Linked DNA regions of Homo sapiens. Changing the gene in region 1 together with any one later gene gives a genetic interaction. Each region holds a gene or a part of one and is shown in the gene's direction. Other genes may lie near its edges.

What was found.
Region 2: changes in BMF (region 1) and BIK together harm fitness more than expected from each alone (negative genetic interaction), as found in Homo sapiens cells (one large-scale study listed by BioGRID).
Region 3: changes in BMF (region 1) and BAD together harm fitness more than expected from each alone (negative genetic interaction), as found in Homo sapiens cells (one large-scale study listed by BioGRID).

The regions. Positions count from the first base shown.
Region 1 is NC_000015.10:40,089,507-40,091,902, reverse strand, and holds part of BMF (bcl-2-modifying factor), read left to right. Parts: intron 1-14; coding exon 15-116; 3' UTR 117-2,396. UniProt on the Homo sapiens protein: May play a role in apoptosis. Isoform 1 seems to be the main initiator.
Region 2 is NC_000022.11:43,109,584-43,113,682, forward strand, and holds the start of BIK (bcl-2-interacting killer), read left to right. Parts: upstream 1-1,166; 5' UTR 1,167-1,220; intron 1,221-4,099.
Region 3 is NC_000011.10:64,278,030-64,281,680, reverse strand, and holds part of BAD (bcl2-associated agonist of cell death), read left to right. Parts: intron 1-3,651. UniProt on the Homo sapiens protein: Promotes cell death. Successfully competes for the binding to Bcl-X(L), Bcl-2 and Bcl-W, thereby affecting the level of heterodimerization of these proteins with BAX. Can reverse the death repressor activity of Bcl-X(L), but not that of Bcl-2.

The DNA.
Region 1 (2,396 bases):
TTTTCTCCCTTCAGCACCAGCAGAACCAAAATCGTGTGTGGTGGCAGATCCTCCTCTTCCTGCACAACCTTGCTTTGAATGGAGAAGAGAACAGGAACGGGGCAGGCCCTAGGTGAGGGTGGGCTGCCCTCTTCACATGGGGCACCAGGAACACCGTCTGGAACAGGAAGGACATCGGGCAGGACTGACACTGTGTCTTGTGAAATTGTTTTTTTGTTGTTATTTTGTGTTTTAATTTTTTTTAATTTCTCTCTGAGTGTACATACAACATACTCAAGCGGGACCTTCTTTCTCTGTCAGGCCCTTGACCTGGAATGGGGGCCTTTGTCAAACACTGTTGAAGGAGAGGCTGATGTGTCTGTGATGGTGAGAATTCCCAAGGGCTCTGACAAGTAGATTCTTCGACTGAGGAATCTACCAGTTGTCGAAGATGATCCGTTAGTGATGTTCTCTGGGAAGTGGACTGTGGTTTTTCCAGAGGAACTCAGTTAAGAAATCGAGAGTGGATTAGACTCCCAGTTCCACCAAACCTATGAGCCTTCCACTGTGGATGGGGGCCGTGATCCTGATGGTCACATTGCTTTAACCCAGCAGGGCTTCGGCCAGGGGCTTTCCACTTGAGGATAGCAGCTTCACTAGGCTGGCCGGCCAGCTCCACATCTGACTGGGTTCTTACTTCTCAGCCAGTACCTGCCCCATGGGCTCAAGGATTCCTGGCCAGCTCCTGCCACCTCCAGCAGACCTCAGGGAGGGTTGAGTTTCTCTAAGGACCCCTCAAACATGTCGCAAAATGAACCAAACTTCTGGCTAGGCCTCAAAACTGACTTGGTCCCACTTGGAGGCCCCAGGATTGGTCCTGAGGTACAGAGCCACTGCCACCACTGGCGGCCTGGGACCAGCTGGGTGTCAGCCACGGATGAGCCGAATAGCCAGTCAGCATGTTGCTGCTGGCAGCCTGTGCCTTTGTCAGCTCTTCTTTCAAAAGACCCCACCGACAGACCGCATTCCACCCCCAACATCGGCACTGAGGGACATCGGGGGCAAGTTTGCAGTGGGGCCGGAAAATATGGTGGCCACCCTACCATGAGAGTCAGCCGTAGGGGACCCCAGACCCCTTGGTTTCCTTGGAAACAACATACCTCTTCCCCCTTATCCCCAGTCCTTTTTCATACCTAGTGGGATACAGAAGAAGCCAGGACAGTGGCTTTGCCAGCTAAGTGACTTTTAGAGTAACAGATAACGATTAGAGTGGGGAACCGTCAAAGCTGGGTACACATTTCCTATCTTCCTCCAGCTTCCAGCTAGGCCAGAAGGGCATGCTCTGGAACCCAGCAGGATCACAGCTGCCTGTGCACGTCTTCCCTTCTCTCCCTGCTGCGGCACTTATGGAGAGGATCTAAAGCAGCCGGTGTGGCAGCTCCGATAGCAGGCACAGGGAATCTGTTAACCAGACGCTAGAAACTAAATTATAACTTTTGCATATGTGAGAAAAGACAACATTGGTGCTAACAGTGAAGTAAGGCCCAAAGGAAAGACGGCTTCCCTGGACAAAGAAGACCTCAGGGCTACCCAAGGAAATAGGAGGAGTCTAGAGTAGACTCACAAATCTGAACAAGCCCAAGTCTTCCAGTTCTGAGGAGAGGAGGTCTTCAGTACTATTGAAGGAGACATTGATCTTCTGGATGTACAGTTGTGCAGGTTGTTCACTGCACAAGGGCACCTGCAGCTAATGGAGGCTGGAATTCAGCTTGTGTTCTGCTCACTAAGCTGTGTGCGTGCCCTGGTGTGGGGCTACTTCTCCCAAGAAGAAGGGGTGCCTTTCCTAATTTGCAAAGGTGCCATATGGGCTCACAGCACCCTGGAGGAGAAGGGCCTCAAACTGTGCATGTAAGCCTTTGTTTTGTTCTGCTCAGATATTCTGGATATTACCTCTTCTTGGTCAGAATTCTATTCTCAGGGTGTGTACCATGATTTGTCTGCTAAGAAGACGGGTTCCTGCTTTGCAGAGAAGGAGCCGGGGACCAGCTTGAAGACTGGCTCTGGGACACACTGACCATTGTGAAATTCAGCCTTCCCTGTGGGTCTCCATACCATTTTATGATGTGTATGGGACATACGTTGTTCTCCCCTCTCTGGATCAAGGTGGTGACAGGCAGCCTGCTGCCGTATGCTTCAGTGGCACACACCAAAAAACCGGGATTATTTACAGCAGCCACTATTCACCCCTTTTGGCAGACTCTCCACCTGAGTTCAGTGAGAGAGAAAATGATTTAGATCTTGGTGCTGGGGCAAGGCCATCAGCTTCAGAGACCTTGCCAGGCCCAGGCTGGGTGCCCTGTGGCCTGAGAACTGAGCCCAGACTTTGACAAACCCACCTCAACATCAAGCCTGGGGCA
Region 2 (4,099 bases), on another chromosome or scaffold:
TCCAGAGCCCGGAAGGCGGGAGGGGCTCTGAAGACTTTATCACACTTTACCTCCTCTGTTCCTCCCAACAGCCCAGCTCTTGGTAGGTGCTGTTGTCCATTTCACAGATGAGAACATTGAAGGGGAAGTAATTACCCTAGAGGTGGGAAGAACAGAGTGAGGGTACCCAACAGGTAGCAAACGACAGAGCTGGGGGAGGGGAACCCCTGTCCCTGCCCCTCCCCTAATCTCTGAGGGGATCAAGACAGAAGTAAACAAGCTTTGCCGTGCCCAGGACAATTGTTACTTTGTTATTCCAGGAGCGCTCTGCCTTCTCCCACCCCCAATATACCCCAGGGCTGGAGTTAGGTCCTACCCATCCCCGCGTAGCAGGCTGCCCACCCGCCCACCCCGCCTGGAAGCTTTCTGATTTCTCTGTTCGCCCCGCCAGGCGCTGTGGGGTCCGTCTCACCAGGTCTGCACGTGAGCCCCCTGCCCCCAATCCCTCCCAGTCCCGCCCGCCTCTCGCGGACCCGGAGCCCCGACGGGAGGGGGAAGGCAGTGGGTGTGTCATGCAGCTGGAAGGCTGCGGACGGGCGGCAGTGGAGGGGCAGCCCCCTGGCTTCGGGTATGGATCACTGGATGCTGCTGCTAACCAAATGTGAACCTCGGTTTTCATATTTGTGAAATAGGCTTTAAAACACCTAAATCCCAAAGCTGCCAGCCTAAGGAGCACACGTCTTTGAACGCTGGCTTCACGCTGTCATTTAAGTCATTTCGTCCTCTTGGAGCCTCGGTTTCCACGTGGGTAAAATGATCGTGAAAAAAAGCACCGAGGAGTACTTTGAGCTCGAACGGAGGCCATCCGTGTAAAGGGCCAGATTCTGTCAATGGATCGATCCCCCCGATATTGATGGAAACCCCTGAGTGCACGCCCGTGCTGGGCGCAGGGGAAACAGCGACGCACGGGACAAAACAAGCTTGCAGAACAGCAGGGGGCAGAGAGGCTGTAAACAAGCCAACGGGCTGCACTTGTAGCGGTTCTGTTGCCAATGCCATTCAGACCCCAGTCCGGGATTCCGCGCTCGGGGTGCGAGAGGCCGCTCCCGGGGAGGGGCGGGACCCGGGCGGGGCGGGAGGGGCGGGGCGCCCGGGCCTATTAGGTCCCGCGCCGGCAGCCGGGCCGCAGACACGAAGCCTCCCGGGTGGCTTACAGACGCTGCCAGCATCGCCGCCGCCAGGTGAGTGCCCCCGACCCTGCTGCCGCCCGCTGCTCCGCCCAGCTCGAGCCCGGCGGTTAGCGCCCAGGCCGCGGCCCGGGTGCCGAGCGGCTGGAAGTGTGGGGAGCCGTGCCCAGGTTTTACCGCTCCAGCAAGTCGCTGGCGGGGCGACGTCTCGGGACTCCGGCTCCGAAACGTACCCTCTCTGTCCGGGGCTCCAGGTCCCCGACGGGCGATCGTGCCAGGCGCGGCCCCTGCGGGCCTCAGTCTCCGCGCCTGTGCAATGGGGTGGTCCCTCTGCGTCTCGCCGCGACGGCTGGACGCCCCATCGCCGCCGCACAGTCCTCCAGTGCGGCTTCCGGGCACCCGGCTCCGAACTCTGGGGTCGTGCGGACCCGGCCAGACCGTAGCGCGGCAACGCCAGCCCACGGCCGCGGCCGCACAGCCCCGGTGCCCTTAAAAGAGGGAAGATGGCGTCGTGCCCGGTGCCGCCGGGACCGGCTCCCGGAGGCGCTGCGCACCTGAGGAAGGGCCGAGGAAAGGCTTCGTAACGGGACGCCCAGAAAGTCCGGAACAGGAACGTGCACACGGAGCGGCGCGCAGCCGCCCGCCCTCGCTTGCCCACGCGCCCTGCACAGGTGCGCCCCAGACTGGGCGGGGACTAGAGCCCGGCTGGGGCATGCGACCTTGTTTGGTAAATTGGAGGTGCGCCCCTGCGGGTGACCCGCGAGGGGGCCCCCCGCCTGCGGGGCGCGGTCACGACAAGGCTTGTGGGGTTCGGAGCTGGTCGTCGTCTGGGCTCTGGCCTCCTAAATGCGATCGCTTTCAAGCCCTTCATTGTCAATTTTGCTAGAATGAGCCACTCGTGGGGTAGGACGTGGTTGTTGATGTTACTGTTGTAGCTCTTACTATTGTAACATTTTTGTTGCTGTTTTAACGCAGTGTTTACTGTGGTCTGGGAGCCCGAGCTTCCCAGGGAGCATTGGTGTCAGCCTCATGTCCCCGCATTAGGAGGAGCGCAGTCTGGTGGGCACTAGCGCCGGGAAGTTCTTAACATCTGTCTGCCCCTGGGAGCAGGAGGCCTCATCTTCCAGGTGGAGAAACAGAGATTTCAGTCCCAGGAGGCACAGAAATGCCAGGGTTGTCTAGCTAGAAGCCAAGGGCCCTTTATGGAACCCAAGCCAAAACCTCTTTCCACTCTCCAGCCCTGTGGCCTCGGAAGGGCCACTCCATCTCTCTGAACCTCAGTTTGTTCTGTTCACTCTGCAAAATGTATCCCTGAGGTTTCTGGCCAGGTGAAAGCCCCTCTCAAGTTAGTAGCCTCCCTGGAGTTAAGACTCACCCCGATTTCTACTTAATTTGGGCACGCCTTTGGAATAAGTTCTCAGGAATGGCACAGTTTGGGTGTTTTTTGTTTCTTTTTGTTTTTTTTTGAAACAGAGCTTCGCTCTTGTTGCCCAGGCTGGAGTGCAATGGCGCCGTCTCGGCTAACTGCAACCTCGGCCTCCTGGGTTCAAACGGTTCTCCTGCCTCAGCCTCCTAGTAGCTGGGATTACAGGCGCCTACCACGAGGCCCAGCTAATTTTTTGTATTTTTAGTAGAGATGGGGTTTCACCATGTTGGCCAAGCTAGTCTCGAACTCCTGACCTCAGGCGATCCACCCGCCTCAGCCTCCCAAAGTGCTGGGATTACAGGTGTGACCCACCCCGCCCGGCTTGAGTGTTTAAATACTCCTGCCTCAGCCTCCCAAGGTGCTGGGATTACAGACGTGAGCCCCTATGCCTGGCCCTTTTTTTTTTTTTAATTGTCTTAAGGATGTTAAGACTAAGATTCTCACACATTTGACTCGTGCCTGTAATCCTAGCACTTTGGGAGGCTGAGGCAGGAGGATTGCTTGAGCTCAGGAGACTAGACTGGGCTAGACCAGACTGGGTAACATGGTAAAACCCTGTCTCTACCAAAAATACAAAAAATTAACCGGGCATGGTGGCATGTGCCTCTGGTCCTAGCTACGCAGGAGGCTGAGTTCAGAGGCCTACCTGAGCTTGGAGGGGTTGAGGCTGCAGTGAACCCTGATCATGCCACTGCACTCTAGCCTGGGAGACAGAGTGAGACCCTGTCTCAAAAAAAGGAGCATTAGGCTGGGCATGGTGGCTCACATTTGTAATCCTAGCACTTTGGGAGGCCGAGGGAGATGGATCACCTGAGGTCAGGAGTTGTGAGACGAGCCTGGCCAACATGGCAAAACCAGTCTCTTTTAAAAATGCAAAAATTAGCCGGTCGTGGTGGCGTGTGTCTGTAATCCCAGCTACTTGGGAGGCTGAGGCAGGAGAACTGCTTGAATCTGGGAGGCAGAGGTTGCACTGAGCGGAGATCACACCATGGCACTCCAGCCTGGGCCACATAGGGAGACTCTCTGTCAAAAGAAAATTTAAAAAAGCATCAAATGGTAGATCCCCAGTGTCTGTTACAGCTTGGGTACTCTATGGCTGGATAGAGAGGCTGCATACATGTTAGTTATTGTAAGTTTGTTTGTTTTTTTGAGACGGAGTTTCGCTCTTGTTGCCCAGGCTGGAGTGCAATGGCTGGGAATACAGGCGTGAGCCACCTCACCCGGCTCAAGATTCTTACACATTTGACTTGCCTGTAATCCCAGCACTTTGGGAGGCTAAGGCGGGAGAATTGCTTGAACCCAGGAGGCGGAGATTGCAGTGAGCAGAGATGGTGCCACTGCACTCAGCCTGGGCTAACGTGAGACTCCATCTCAAAAAAAAAAAAATTACGTCTTGTGTCACAGAGCTGCAGATAAACCAGAGACTACTCATAACCGTGTACTTTTTTTTTCCCCCATTTCTGATCCCGTCTCAACGGAAGGATGTAATTGAGGAAGGGCTTGATTG
Region 3 (3,651 bases), on another chromosome or scaffold:
TGGTCAGCACTCACCTTGGTGAGAAGCACCACTGGAGCCAAGGCCACAGGGATGATGGGAAGAGAGTTCCAGGCAGAGAGAAGGGCAGATGGTAAGGCCTCGAGGGCAACACCTGCTCCTGGCTAGGGTGGGCCTAGGGGAGGGGGTTTAGGAAAGGGTATTTGGAGACCTAAAGTTGAAGGTCATTCTAAGGACTCTGGCATTGCCTTTGAGTAAAAACCTGGAAAGGATTTGAGCAGAGGCAGCATGGTCAGATTTAGACATTCAGAGAGTCACCAGGGAGGTGGTGAGAAGTAGCTGATCCCTGGATTTATTTTTAAAGCAGAACTGGCAGGATCTGCTGATGGACTGGATGTGGGGTGCGAGGGAAAGAGAGGAGTCAGGATGATGCCAAGGAATTTTAAAAAAACTATTAGGCTGGGCGCGGTGGCTCACGCCTATAATCCCAGCACTTTGGTAGTTCGAGGTGGGCAGATCATGAGGTCAGGAGATAGAGACCATTCTGGCTAACACGGTGAACCCCGTCTCCACTAAAAATACAAAAAATTCTCTGGGCGTGGTGGTGGGCGCCTGTAGTCCCAGCTACTCTGGAGGCTGAGGCAGGAGAATGGCGTGAGCCCGGGAGGCGGAGCTTGCAGTGAGCAGAGATTGCACCACTGCACTCCAGCCTGGGTGACAGAGCAAGATTCCGTCTCAAAAAAAAAATTATTATTGGCCGGGCGTGGTGGCTCACACCTGTAATCCCAGCACATCGGGAGGCTGAGGCAGGCAGATCACTTGAGGTCAGGAGTTCAAGAACAGCCTGGCCAACTTGGTGAAATCCTGTCTCTACTACAAATACACAAATTAGCTGGATGTGGTGGTGGGCGCCTGTAATCCCAGCTACCTGAGAGGCTGAGGCAGGAGAATCACTTGAACCCAGGAGGTGGAGGTCGCAGTGAGCTGAAATCCTGCCACTGCACTCCAGCCTGGGTGACAGAGCAAGAGTCCGTCTCAAAAAACAAAAAATAAATAAAAATAAAATAAATTAGGCCAGGCGCGGTGGCTCACGCCTGTAATCCCAGCACTTTGGGAGGCCGAGGCGGGCGGATCACGAGGTCAGGAGATCAAGACCATCCTGGCTAACACGGTGAAACCCCGTCTCTACTAAAAATACAAAAAATTAGCCGGGCGTGGTGGTGGGTGCCTATAGTCCCAGCTACTCGGGAGGCTGAGGCAGGAGAATGGCATGAACCCGGGAGGCAGAGCTTGCAGTGAGCCGAGATGGTGCCACTGCACTCCAGCCTGGGCGACAGAGCAAGACTCCGTCTCAAAAAAAAAAATTATTATTATTATTATTATTATTATTTTATTTTATTTTTGACATGGAGTCTTGCTCTGTCGCCCAGGCTGGAGTGCAGTGGCACCATCTCAGCTCACTGCAAGCTCTGCCTCCCGGGTTCACGCCATTCTCCTGCCTCAGCCTCCAGAGTAGCTCGGACTACAGCCTCCCGCCACCATGCCCAGCTAATTTTTTTGTGTGTTTTTAGTAGAGATGGGGTTTCACCATGTTAGCCAGGATGGTCTCGATCTCCTGACCTTGTGATCCGCCCGCCTTGGCCTCCCAAAGTGCTGGGATTACAGGCGTGAGCCACCGCGCCTGGCCAAATTATTATTAATTTTAGAGACAAGGTCTTGCTATGTTGGCCAGGCTGGTCTTGAGCTCCTGGCCCCAAGTGATCCTCCCACCTTGGCCTCACAAAGTGCTGGGATTACAGGCATGAGCCACAGTGCCCAGCCAACACCAAGGAATCTGGCTTGAGCACCCGGTAGGATGAAGTTGCTTTTAATGGAGAAGAAACACTGAAGGGTGAGGGAGGATCTGGAGGCTACCCTAGAGGGTGGGATAGAGGGGGATTTTTTTTTTTTTTTTTTTTTTGAGATAGAGTCTTACTCTGTCACCCAGGCTGGAGTGCAGTGGCACGATCTCGGCTCACTGCAACTTCCACCTCCTGGGTTCATGCCATTCTCCTGCCTGAGCCTCCCCAGTAGCTGGGATTACAGGCATGCACCATGCCCAGCTAATTTTTGTGTTTTTAGTGGAGACGGGGGTTTCACCATGTTGGCCAGGCTGGTCTCGAATTCCTGACCTCGTGATCCACCCGCCTCAGCCTCCCAAAATGCTGGGATTACAGGCATGAGCCACCGCGTCTGGCCGCTAGAGGTGGCTTTTAAGCATCTGGTGGGATTTTTAGCAGGGTGCTAGTGGGAGCTGGCAGGGACTTGGAGTCTGAACCAGAGTTGTGCTTGTCTCAGTCCAGTTAGGGGTAGGGGCTTCAGGTGTGTGCAAAGGAAGGAATGGTAGATGTGGGGTCCAAGCTGGCTGAGCTTCAGGGAAGGGAGCAAGCCCTGGGAAGCCGCAGCATCGTTGGAGTTGGGGTCCCGGGGGCATGATCCACACAGGTTGGGTCAGCTGGTGGGAAGCTTGGGATGGAGTTATTTGATGGTGACAAGGCCTAGGTTATGTCCCTGGGAATGAGTCTGAGGGGAGAGTGGGACAAGATCATGGTAGAAGGAGTAGCAAGGTACAGAAAGGAGACAGGGTGCTGGTGGAGTGGCAGAGGACAGGAGTAACATTCTGCACAGGCCAGGGACGACACCTCCCCCCAGCCCCAGCTGCAGACCCGTAGGAAAGAGGGCTGCGGGAGAAGACAGCTGCCAGGTGAGGACAGAGCTGGATTTCTTAACCTTTTGATTTAGTTTTCAGTGTCTCCAAAAGCAAGTGGTTTCCCAGAAAAGATCAGCAAGTGCCAGTGCCCCGCCAGAGCCACGGGGCCTCTGCCCTCTCTACCTGCGCAGAGCAACTCACACTTGGTTCGGTCACTCCTCATAGTCCCTGCCACCAGGCCCCCCTGCTGGATGGCTGAGGTGTCCCCAGGGCAGGGACTGCAGCCACCTTGTGCTGTGACAGCCCACACAGCCCAGTGTCTGAAACAGGTGTGGACAGTGGAGAGGCAGAAAGAAGCAGCCCAGTGCTAGCCCCTGGGCCAGACTGCAGGGTTCAAACGTGGCTCTACCCTTCCTAGCAGGTTGAGCTTGAGCAGGTTAATTAACTCCATCTGCCTGAGTTTCCTCATCTGTAAACGGGAATAGAACTAGTCCCACCTCGCAGGGCTGTGGCGAGGACCTGATGAGTTAATATAGGAAAAGTGCTTGGAAACAGTGCCTGGCGCAGAGGAGGGGCTAAGTGTTTGCGGCTCTTATTATTAGAACTGCCATTGTTATTATTTATGTATATATATATTTATATATAAATATATATATATAATTTTTTTTTCCAAGATGGAGCCTCACTCTGTCGCCCAGGCTGGAGTGCAGTGGTGCAATCTCGCCTCGCAGCAACCTCTACCTCCCAGGTTCAAGTGATTTTCTTGCCTTTATGTACATTCTTGGCTTTATATATTTATAAAGCCTCAAATTTCTGGGCTCCAGCCATCCTCCCACCTCAGCTTCCTAAGTAGCTGGGACTACAGGCGCACGCCACCATGCCTGGCTAATTTTTTTATTTTAATTTTTGTAGAGACAAGGGTCTTTCTGTGTTGCTCAGGCTGGTCTCGAACTCCTGGCCTCAAGCAGTCCTTTTGCCTTGGCCTCCCAAAGTGTTGGGATTAC